3 linked regions of the Homo sapiens genome follow. Changing the gene in region 3 together with the main gene of any one other region gives a genetic interaction. Each region holds a gene or a part of one and is shown on either strand. Other genes may lie near its edges.

Region 1 (3,655 bases), on a different chromosome or scaffold from region 3:
CCCCACTGGTCCAGTTCTCCATTCAAAGGCTCAATGCTGCTGCCACCTCCACTGACTAGAAAACCCTATCTTACTGCTCTGGCTCTTTTTTTTTTTTTTTTTGGTATTATTATGGGGTCCTTGTTCTGAGCTCTTTCTCAGATTTCAGCCAGTTATACTTCTTATTGCCCCTACTGACAAAGTCCTGGCTCCATCTCTTTAATAGCTTCCGCCCTCTAAAACTGCTTCCATCAGTGGCCCTTACTCACATCAACAAATGTCAGTTTAAAATTTTCATTTTCATCTGTATAAAGTCATATTGCTTTGTAACCCTCCAGACACATATTATTGGCAGATGTAGCCAGACACATGCTGTCTTTGAATCCAGATGCCTTTGCAGCAGCCCAGAGCTATGTATTCTACAAACCCCTGTGCCCAAAGGGGTAGCATTATGTCAATTGACAGAGTGATGCTGAAATATCAGAGCAATTCAAAGACCCTGCCCAGGAGCTAGCTCAACATTTTGTTATGCCCCACAGAATGCATTGCTAGTTAACTCAAAGCTATTACACCCAGAACAGGGATGGTTTCCATTGATACATCACTGCCTAGCTGAAGGGGCAGTCAACATCATCGACTTACATAACAATCACCAACAATGTTCCAGATAGTAGGCTAGATTCTAGGCTTATACAAAGAGAAATGAAATCTCTGCCCACAAGAAACTTATAAACTAGTTCTAGAAGGTCTAGTTCAGATTTGGGCATGGTAGTGGATACCAACATTGATAAAATTATCATTGGAATTAACACATCATGTAAGTGCTAGCAGGGTACAACACTGTCAATTCCAAGAATAGAACCAAATCCTCCTGTTGACCTTAATAGGTGTGGGACATCTCCGGGAGAGATGAGGCCCTTATAGAGGGTGATTTTGAGAGATACAAATGCTATCATGGCTCTCAGACATACTGAGAAAGGACTGAAGGTATCTGGAGTTGGAGGAGGGAGGATCCTTGTATAGTTAGTTCTATGTTAAAGGACTGATTGGTAGGTTAGGCTGCAGAAATAGTCTATGACCTTGGGTCTGTGGTGGACAGTATATAAGATGATGAAGCACACTTGAAAAGGTAGTGGTTTTTTTTTTTTGTTTTTTTTTTTTTGAGATGGAGTCTCGCACTGTCACCCAGGCTGGAGTGCAGTGGCACAGTCTCAGCTCACTGCAACCTCTACCTCCCAGTTTCAAGCGATTCTCCTGCCTTAGTCTCCCAAGCAGCTGGGACTAGGCCCGGCTAATTTTTTTTGTATTTTTAGTAGAGACAGGGTTTCACCATGTTGGCCAGGCTGGTTTTGAATTCCTCACCTCAAGTGATCTGCCCGCGTGGGCCTCCCAAAGTGCTAGGATTACAGGCGTGAGCCACCATGCCCTACCAAGAAGGTAGTTCTTAAAAGGATACTTTTACTAACAAATAATTCAGAAGTGATAAAGGATCAACTGAGTAGACTTACCATCTGCTCCTTCATTGCTTTTGCTTCTTTTATTGCGGCGAACACGCCTACTTTCTTCTTCAGAGTATGGCTTTTCATCAGGGAAGAAGAAATTCAATAGGGCCATCTGTAAAAATTACAAGTACATTAGTCAAAGGTTGACCCCACTCAGTCATAGCCAACATAAAAAACCAGCTTTCCATAGACAGTCTACCTGTACCTTAAGTTTGATGTGTCTAAAGCCTGAGCCCATCTTCCCCTCCACTGTACAAACCATTTTATTTTTGATACCATTATTATTCCAATCATGTAGGCATGACATTTTGGTTAATTTCTGAATCCCATTTCTTCCACCCTGAATATCTAATAAATAATCCATCAGGTCCCATTTCTTCATATATTTCTGGGATTCAGAGAGCCTAGCCACAAATTTCTAACTTCCCACACATACTGAGGATGCTCACTCAGAATTTGAGTTGAACAGAAAATTGAACAGAAAACCTTGAATTTGGCTGGGAGCAGTGGCTCACGCCTGTAATCCCAGCACTTTGGGAGGCCGAGGTGGGCGGATCACCTGAGGTCAGGAGTTCGAAACCAGCCTGACCAACATGGTGAAACCCCATCTCTACTAAAAATACAAAATTAGCCGGGTGTGGTGGTGGGGGGTGCCTATAATCCCAGCTACTGGGGAGGCTGAGGTAGGAGAATCGCCTGAACCTGGGAGGCAGAGGTTGCAGTGAGCTGAGGTCGCACCACTGCACTCCAGCCTGGGCAACAAGAGCAAAACTCTGTAAAAAAAAAAAAAAAAAAAGAAGAAAGAAAGAGAAAGAGAAAGAGAAAGAGAAAGAAAGAAAGAAAGAAAGAAAGAAAGAAAGAAAGAAAACCTTGAATTTGCTGCTCCCCATTGGACTTCATTATTACACATTCATGATTTTGCCACATTGCTATTTATGATGTAATTTTGGTTTGTTCCCAAAATGCTGTGCATCCAATACTGAGGTACTATTTGTCAATGCTCTTCTGGGAGTTAGTCATGACAAAGTACACAATTATTTTCTCCTCTTCTGAGATTCCTATAGCACTTGTGGTCTATAAGACTAATTTTGGTACCTGGTCCTCTACTGTCTTATAATGGTCTCTGATAATAATACAATATGTTTCATATGTGAATGGGTCTGGCTTCACTAATAATCATAGCTTAAATATATATTTGCTGAATTGAATCATAATCTTTTAGCATGAGTGCTTTACTGTGGTAAAACCATGTGCTTGAGGTAAACAGTAAACACGGTAGTAGGACTGAGTGATTCTAATGCCAACTCTGCCACTTACTAGCTGTATAACCTGGAACAAGTTACTTAAACTTTAGTTTCCTCATCAGTAAGTAGGGATAATAATAGTACTTTGCAGATAAAACAGTTGCAGAGTTAGAACAGTACTTAGCATGTAGCATGCACTTAATAAATGTTTGCTATTACTATTATTATTAAACTTAATCTTCAAAATAGAATGGTTAATTTGGGGCCTAAAATAGAACAAATGAATCTGCATTTTCATTCTATTATCAGTTCAAAAAATAAAAAATTCCAGAGTCCTCATGTCTGCTCCATCTCTGATTAAGTGGAAAAAAAATGGGTTGGACCCAAGAAAGCCCCAATATTCCACACAAATTTTCTTCAAAATTCTGTGATTTACCCAATATCCTTAAGGTGTAGGATTAGCATCTTGAAGGATACATGAATGTATTAAATATAAAATTAATAAATCAATGTGTAGGTAATTTCCATCTTGTCAACAGGACTGCATTTCAAAATAAACTGCCATTTTTGTCAAAAATGGTTGAATATCAATCAACAATTTCACATGGTTCAACTGAGTAGTATTTTTGAGTCACTTGATTGGAATGTAAAAATGCATTTTCTCATACAATCAACATAATAAAGTTTGGCTAGTTCTCCTGATAAGCCCACAGAAAGTTACTTAACTCACAATATAAATAAGCTAAGTACTAATAATAGTATAAAACTAAACTGCTGTTTACAATAAAATCTCAATCATTTGCAACTCTACAAGTCATCCTGGATAGAAGAGTTTTCTTGATAACTTTGAGTGCTGAAACTTACTTCAGCTATGCAGCCATTAAAAAAGAACGAGATCATGTCCTTTGCAGTGACATAGATGGAGCTGGA
Region 2 (3,655 bases), on a different chromosome or scaffold from region 3:
GCGGATCACGAGATCAGGAGACAGAGACCATCCTGGCTAACACAGTGAAACCCCGTCTCTACTAAAAAAAATACAAAAAATTAGCCGGGCGCCTGTAGTCCCAGCTACTCGGGAGGCTGAGGCAGGAGAATGGCATGAACCCAGGAGACGGAGCTTGCAGTGAGCTGAGATCACACCACTGCACTCCAGCATGGGCGACACAGCGAGACTCCATCTCAAAAAAAAAAAATAATAATAATAATAATAAACTTTCATATAAGGCAAGGGCTGATTGCTAGAAGAAATCTCAATATTAGGCAATTTTTACTATTATTATTATTGAGATGGGGTTTCCTCGTCGTCCAGGATGGAGTGCAGTGGCCTGATCTCAGATTACTGCAACTTCCACATCCCAGGTTCAAGAGATTTTCTCACCTCAGCCTACCAACTAGCTGGATCTACAGGCGTACATCACCACACCCAGCTTATTATTATTATTTTTTAATTTGTACTTTGGCCGGGCACGGTGACTCACGCCTGTAATCCCAGGACTTTGGGAGGCCTAGGCAGGCGGATCACCTGAGGTCAGGAGTTCGAGACCAGCTGGCCAACATGGTGAAACCCTGTCTCTACCAAAAAAAATACAAAATTATCCAGGTGTGGTGGTGTGCACCTGTAATCCCAGCTACTCAGGAGGCTGAGGCAGGAGAATCACTTGAGATTGGGAGGCAGAGGTTGCAGTGAGCTGAGATTGCACCATTGCACTTCAGCCTGGGCAAAAAGAGCGAAACTCCAACTCAAAAAAAAAAAAAAATTTGTACTTTTGATAGAGACAGGGTTTCACCATGTTGCCCAGGTTGGTCACAAATTCCTGGGCTCAAGTGATCTGCTTGCCTCGGCCTCCAAAAGTGCTGGGATTACAGGCCTGAGCCACCGTGCCCGGCCTTATTATTTGTTTTTAAATTACACATGCGACTACAGACAAATTATAAAATACAACATGTAGCTTGGTGCAAAGACCTTCAGCAGAAAAGGATACAGCTCTTGAATGGAAACAATGTCTCTAGCTCCTGCATGGCCACTGTCCTTGCAGGTACTATGCCTGGCTTTCGATAATCTTTTGCTCAGAAACTGAAAAAGAAAAGATAGTGAATACAGTACTTCATAGTCAAGTAATAGCAGAGGTGTTTTCAAAAGCCTTGAGATAATAAAAGGTATTCAAAATATAATCAAAGATCTAACATTCCTCAAAGAATTAAGATACACACAGACTAAAAACAAAGACATCCCATGACTGTCTATAACATATAACAATCCTAATAATACCAATTATTTGGTGAAGACTTATCACCTGCTGGGCATAGTTTTAAGTGCTTTATGTCCATTCTCATTTCTTTTTTTTTTGAGATGGAGTCTCGCTCTGTCCCAGGCTGGAGTGCAGTGGCGCAATCTCAGCTCACTGCAACCTCCACCTCCTCGGTTCAAGCGATTCTCCTTCCTCAGCTTTCCGAGTACCTGGGATTACAGGCGCCTGCCACCATGCCCAACTAATTTTTGTATTTTTAGTAGAGACAGGGTTTCACCACGTTGGCCAGGCTGGTCTTGAACTCCTGACCTTGTGATCTGCCTGCCTCGGCCTCCCAAAGTTCTGGGATTATGGGCATGAGCCACGGCGCCCAGCCCCATTTAATTCTTATAACAATCATAAAAAATACAGATTATTAGACCCAATGTCAGAAAAGGAAACTGAGGCTCAGGGACATAGTTTGTCCAAGCTCACACTGGGACTGGAATCCAGGCCTGACTCGAAAGCCCACACTCCTCTCAATATATCACAATGCCTCCCCTGTAGAGCAGAAATGGAGAATCACATTATTAGTTTGCTTTCATTTTGTTCTTACCTCATGCTCAAAAGAGTTCAGGATCTCTGAGGTAAGGCCAACTTTATGTGTGCTGGTGCAGAAGGCTATAAGCTCGCCTACCATTCCCTCCTCATTCTGTCCATACTGAACACAAAGCTCTACCACTGTAGAAAGGAAAATTGGACAAGTAAAAACTTAGTTCATTTCTCGAAGTTTCACCTAGAAAAGCAAAAATAATCCTGGTTTACTCCATCAATGTTTATTCAGAATCTATTAGTGCCAGGCACTGTTTTGGGCAATGAGAAAACAGAAGCATCCTTGTCCTTACAAAGCTCACCACTGAGGGGAGACAAAAGAGGATAAGGGCAGAATCAGGGGGACCAATTAAAGAATCATGGAAAAGCCCAGGTGAGAGATGATGGTGGCTTGGATCAAGGTGGTGGCAGTGGAGATGGCGAGAAGTGGCTGGACTCTGGATAGGACTTTACATGCTGGAAGTGAAGCCAGTGGGATCTGCTAACTGAATGTAAGGTATGAGAAAAAGAAAGTCAAGGATGATGCTGATATTTTTAGCCTGTGCAACAGGAAGAGTGGCGTCCCTATTAACTGAGATGGGGAAAAGAGCCAGAGGAACTACTCTGAGGAGAGAGAGGAGATACCAGGAGCTTAGTTTTAGACATGCAGAGTTTGAGGTGCCATTTAGACATCCAACTGGAGACAGCAGGCTGAACAAACCAGCCTGTAGTTCAGGCAAGGGTTGTGGGCGGAGGTATAAATTTGGGAACCATCAGTAAATACATGGGATATAAAGCTATGAGACCCCAGGTGAGATCGCCAAGGGAGTGAGCGTATCTAGAAGGGAGAAAAGATCCCAGGCTTGAGTCTTGGGGCGCCTTAGGGCCTCTGAGGATGAATCGGCAAAGCCTGAGAAGCGGTGACACAAGCAAAGCTGAAGAAAAACTAGGAGTAAGCCGGATGCAGTGGCTCACGCCTGTAATCCAGTATTTTGTGAGGTTGAGGTGGGCAGACTGTTTGAACCCAGAAGTTTGAGACCAGCTTGGGCAACAGGGTGAAACCGTTTCTATAAAAAATACAACAATTAGGTGGGCTTGGTGGCATGTGCCTGTAGTTACAGCTACTTGGGGGCTGAGGTGGAAGGATTGCTTGAGCCAAGGAGGTTGAGGCTGCAGTGAGCTGTGATTTGCCCATTATACTCCAGCCTGGGCAACAGAGCAAGACCCTGTCTCAGAAAAAAAAGAAAGAAAAACTAGTAGTGTCTAAGAAGCTAAAAGAAAAATGTGTTTAAAAAAAGAAAAAATGACAAACAGTGTCAAGTGCCGGTGCTAATTCAATTCAAGATGAGGACTGAAAATTCATCACTGGTTTTAGCATGGTGAAGGTCACTGGTGACCTTGAGTAGAGCAGCTTTGGTGAAGTGGTGGCAACAAAAGAACTTACTGAAATGGATTTAAGGAGGAAATATTTAAAGATGGCAAGGCCCCCCCCCTTTTTTTTTTGGAGACAGAGTTGCACTCTGTTGCCAGGCTGGAATGCAGTGGCACGATCTCGGCTCATTGCAACCTCCACCTCCCCGATTCAAGCGATTCTCCTGTCTCAGCCTCCCAAGTAGCTGGGACTACAGGCATGCGCCACCATGCCCAGCTAATTTTTGTATTTTAAGTAGAGACCGGGTTTCACCACGTTGGCCAGGATGGTCTCCATCTCTTGACCTTGTGATCCGCCCTCCTCCGCCTCCCAAAGTGCTCGGATTACAGGCGTGAGCCACCGCACCCGGCCGACCCTTTTGAGGTCTG
Region 3 (3,655 bases):
GAAAGGAAATGGGATATGTGGGGCAGGCTTTTATGTGTTACTTTTTATGTATCTAACCCCCTTCTGAACTATTAAAAATGTACCTGCTCTTTTAATTATTGAAAAAAATATAAATAAGTCTTAGAAGTCCTATATAGAGATGAGTTAAAACAAACCACACAAGGCCAGGCATGGTGGCTCACGCCTGTAATCCTAGCACTTTAGAAGGCTGGGGCAGGTGGATCACTTGAGGTCAGGAGTTCGAGACCAGCCTGGCTAACATGGTGAAACCCCGCCTCTACTAAAAATATAAGAATTAGCTGGGTATGGTGGTGCGCACCTGTAATCCTAGCTACTCAGGAGGCTGAGGCAGGAAAATTGCTTGAACCTGAAGACGGAGGTTGCAGCAAGCCGAGATTGCGCCACTGCACTCCAGCATGGGCGACAGAGTAAGACTCCGTCTCAAAAATAAATAAATAAATAAATAAATAAATAAATAAATAGATAGATAGATAGATAGATAGATAAATAAAACAAACCACACACACATTCTTGTGAGCACTTACAATAGCTATCTGAAATCCTACAGCTTAATGTTAGAAGATTAGCGGCAAATGTGGTCAACTTTAAACAGCCATCATCAGAATGGGAATAAATCCATGGAAGTGAGAGCATACCACATAAATCTTCCAGGATATGATCTTCAAATGAACTGTTTACTACAGAAGCACAAAATAAGTCATTAATTATAACTTTTCCTTAATCATATCTCTTTTAAATAAAAATAAAGACATTTGAAATACTATCATAATGATCATTGGATAAGCAGAAATTCTTAACACAGAGATCTATAAACGATGGTCTGAGGTCTGTGAACCCAAAGAAATTAAATGTGACTTTATAAAAACATGTTATCTATGCCTGTTTTAAAGAAGAATCACGGCATTCCTCAAACTCCCAAATTAAAAAACTTTGAAGTTATAAATAATTTCTATTGACTAAAGAATCAAAATATTATGCACATAAATTGGCAACTCAGAACTTCTATTATTGACAAATTTAATAGAACTGAAATCAGGAAAAAACTTCTGAGTATTCCAAACACGCACTTAGGCTTCAGGCAAAAAAGAAAGCATATTTCTATACTGATTATCTTTAAAGGTTATTCTGATCTGTTGCTAATTTGTACTCACCTTGCATATAAATCAAAGCATCATAAATTTTCACCACCTTATCAATGGTTGCCTCCAGGTCCAGTTTCTGAACAGATTCTAACAAACTTCTACAGCTCTTAAGCACTTTTGTGTAAAAATCCAATGACATCCAAGTTATCACTACAGAAGGTTTCTTCTTGGATTTATGTTGACAGTCCTTGAAAGTACGGCTGCAGTAAGTACATTTTGTTAAAAACATTGGAATTAAGATGAATTTTGTTATAGTCAAACATAAAATTGTAGTAAAGCCAAAAGAAATTGTGAGTACGAAATTTATCTATAACAATTTAAAGTAAACATGCAAATCAAGTAATATGTTATTACTATTTTAAGTTGAATCTATTTATGTCAGCTTAAATCACCCTTAGGATTTGGGAACCAAATGACTTTGGGAGCCTGAGGTGGGAGGATCACTTGAGCCCAGGAGTTTGAGACCAGCCGGGCCAATATAGGGAAACCCATCTCTACAAAAAAAATTTTTTCTAAATTAGGGTGTGGCGGCACATGCCTATAGTTCCAGCTACATGGGAGGCTCACTTGAGCCCCGGATAGAGATCAAGGCTGTAGTGAGCCATGATCATGCCACTGTGCACCAGCCTGGGAGACAAAGCGAGACCCTGTCTTCAACAGCCAAACACTGGGTTTTGAGTTGTACACAAATGTGTTCTGGTACTTTCTAATCATGTGTCCCCAGGAAAGTCAGTTTTGGCTTCAGACAAAAAAGAGCCTCAGTTTCTCTGAGTGTCAGTTTCTAATTTTTAAAATAGGCATAATAGCCTTTACCTTACAGGACTATTGTAAATATTAACTAAGATATATACAGTGCTTAGCACCGTACCTAGCATTTGACTCAATAGAAAATAAATTTATTAACTACTTCAGTGAAAAGTTTGTGTTCTAAGGTTACATGAGTCAAGTGAATAATGAGTAAACAGTAAATCCAAGTTCATTACAGGAAACCCAACCCCAAGAAACAAGAAGTTTGTTTTACCAGTTCATGTTTTGATGAGAACAATGAACAGTACACAGAGCAGTCAGTTGTAAGACAACAGCAATTCCTTCTAACATCTCAATAACAGGATTCTTTAGGCCACTGTATTCAAGGGAAATCTGAAGGGATTCAGCTTTCTGTTTCAGTGCACTCCATAATATGCTCTTTTGGTTCATGTCCACATGTTTAATTCTATAATTATGAATATAGTAGAGAGATATTCATATGCAATATAAATTTGGTTAAAACATGAAACATATTTAGAATAAAACATACTATGTAATATCAACTATTCAAAAAAATTTTTTTTTTTTGTGAGACAGAGTCTCACTCTGTCTCCCAGGCTGGAGTGCAGTGGCGCCATCTCGGCTCACTGCAAGCTCCGCCTCCCGGGTTCACGCCATTCTCCTGCCTCAGCCTCCCGAGTAGCTGGGACTACAGGCGCCAACCACCACGCTTGGCTAATTTTTTGTATTTTTAGTAGAGACAGGGTTTCACCGTGTTAGCCAGGATGATCTCGATCTTCTGACCTCGTGATCTGCCCGCCTCGGCCTCCCAAAGTGCTGGGATTACAGGCGTGAGCCACCGCGCCCAGCCTGAAATTTATACTAAGATTTAAAACAATTAAAACAATGTTCAGAAGTAACTGAAATATGGCAACTTAGCCACTTTATAAAAAATAGTTGGTTAATGTTTTAAAAATTGCTAATAGATGCACAGTCTCAAAGATTTTTCACATATTAAAAAGTTAAATTAGATAAGCATATAAAAACATGCAAAGTAACTATATTTAACCATGAAATGTTTTATACTACTAACCGTCTACAATAATTATAAAAATATTTTAAGCACTCCCTTGGCTACATTTAGAAAGATGTTCTTTGTGTATTTAAATCAAAGCACTTAACTAAAGCTGATTTTTAAAAGTGAACAAAGTTTTATTTAATGGCTAAATACAAACTGAATGAAGGTCATCATACTCCTCAGTCTGTTTTGGTGCTCTTTTAGAAGGGTTTAGAGACGAGCTGAGACGACGCCTTTTGGGTGATATTCCATCACTATTACTGCTGAGGTTTTCCTGTTGAGTTTGGCATTGAATCTCCTCAATGATTTCCATACTTTCCATTTTCAAAGCTGCATAAAGTGGGCCCAACAAGTACTGAGAAAATAAAAAATAATTTCCAGAAATATTCCTTAGAAAATATATTTATATTATTCATAGGCAGCAAGAATGTATTAGATGTTAGGTGTTTTCTAGTGAAACTACTTTTAGAGTCTCATAAAGCAAAATAAACATCTAAATTGATCTATATTATTTAAGTCTATATATAGACTATGGTTCTATAGTCTTAGAAGGTTTAAACAAATCCTTCTCTCTACATCCTGTTTTTCCTCTTACCAAAATGCTATAAATTTTAATTCCCTTATAAAAAATTCTGTAAGGGAATTACCAACTTTCTTCATGTAACTT

The links.
Region 1: changes in ATR (region 3) and EDA together harm fitness less than expected from each alone (positive genetic interaction), as found in Homo sapiens cells (one large-scale study listed by BioGRID).
Region 2: changes in ATR (region 3) and POLA2 are lethal when combined (synthetic lethality), as found in Homo sapiens cells (one large-scale study listed by BioGRID).

The regions. Positions count from the first base shown.
Region 1 is NC_000023.11:69,954,965-69,958,619, reverse strand, and holds part of EDA (ectodysplasin-A), read right to left. Parts: intron 1,594-3,655; coding exon 1,488-1,593; intron 1-1,487. UniProt on the Homo sapiens protein: Cytokine which is involved in epithelial-mesenchymal signaling during morphogenesis of ectodermal organs. Functions as a ligand activating the DEATH-domain containing receptors EDAR and EDA2R. May also play a role in cell adhesion.
Region 2 is NC_000011.10:65,264,932-65,268,586, reverse strand, and holds part of POLA2 (DNA polymerase alpha subunit B), read right to left. Parts: intron 2,006-3,655; coding exon 1,881-2,005; intron 1,111-1,880; coding exon 1,019-1,110; intron 1-1,018. UniProt on the Homo sapiens protein: Accessory subunit of the DNA polymerase alpha complex (also known as the alpha DNA polymerase-primase complex) which plays an essential role in the initiation of DNA synthesis.
Region 3 is NC_000003.12:142,558,079-142,561,733, forward strand, and holds part of ATR (serine/threonine-protein kinase ATR), read right to left. Parts: intron 3,344-3,655; coding exon 3,165-3,343; intron 2,377-3,164; coding exon 2,185-2,376; intron 1,364-2,184; coding exon 1,173-1,363; intron 699-1,172; coding exon 546-698; intron 1-545. UniProt on the Homo sapiens protein: Serine/threonine protein kinase which activates checkpoint signaling upon genotoxic stresses such as ionizing radiation (IR), ultraviolet light (UV), or DNA replication stalling, thereby acting as a DNA damage sensor.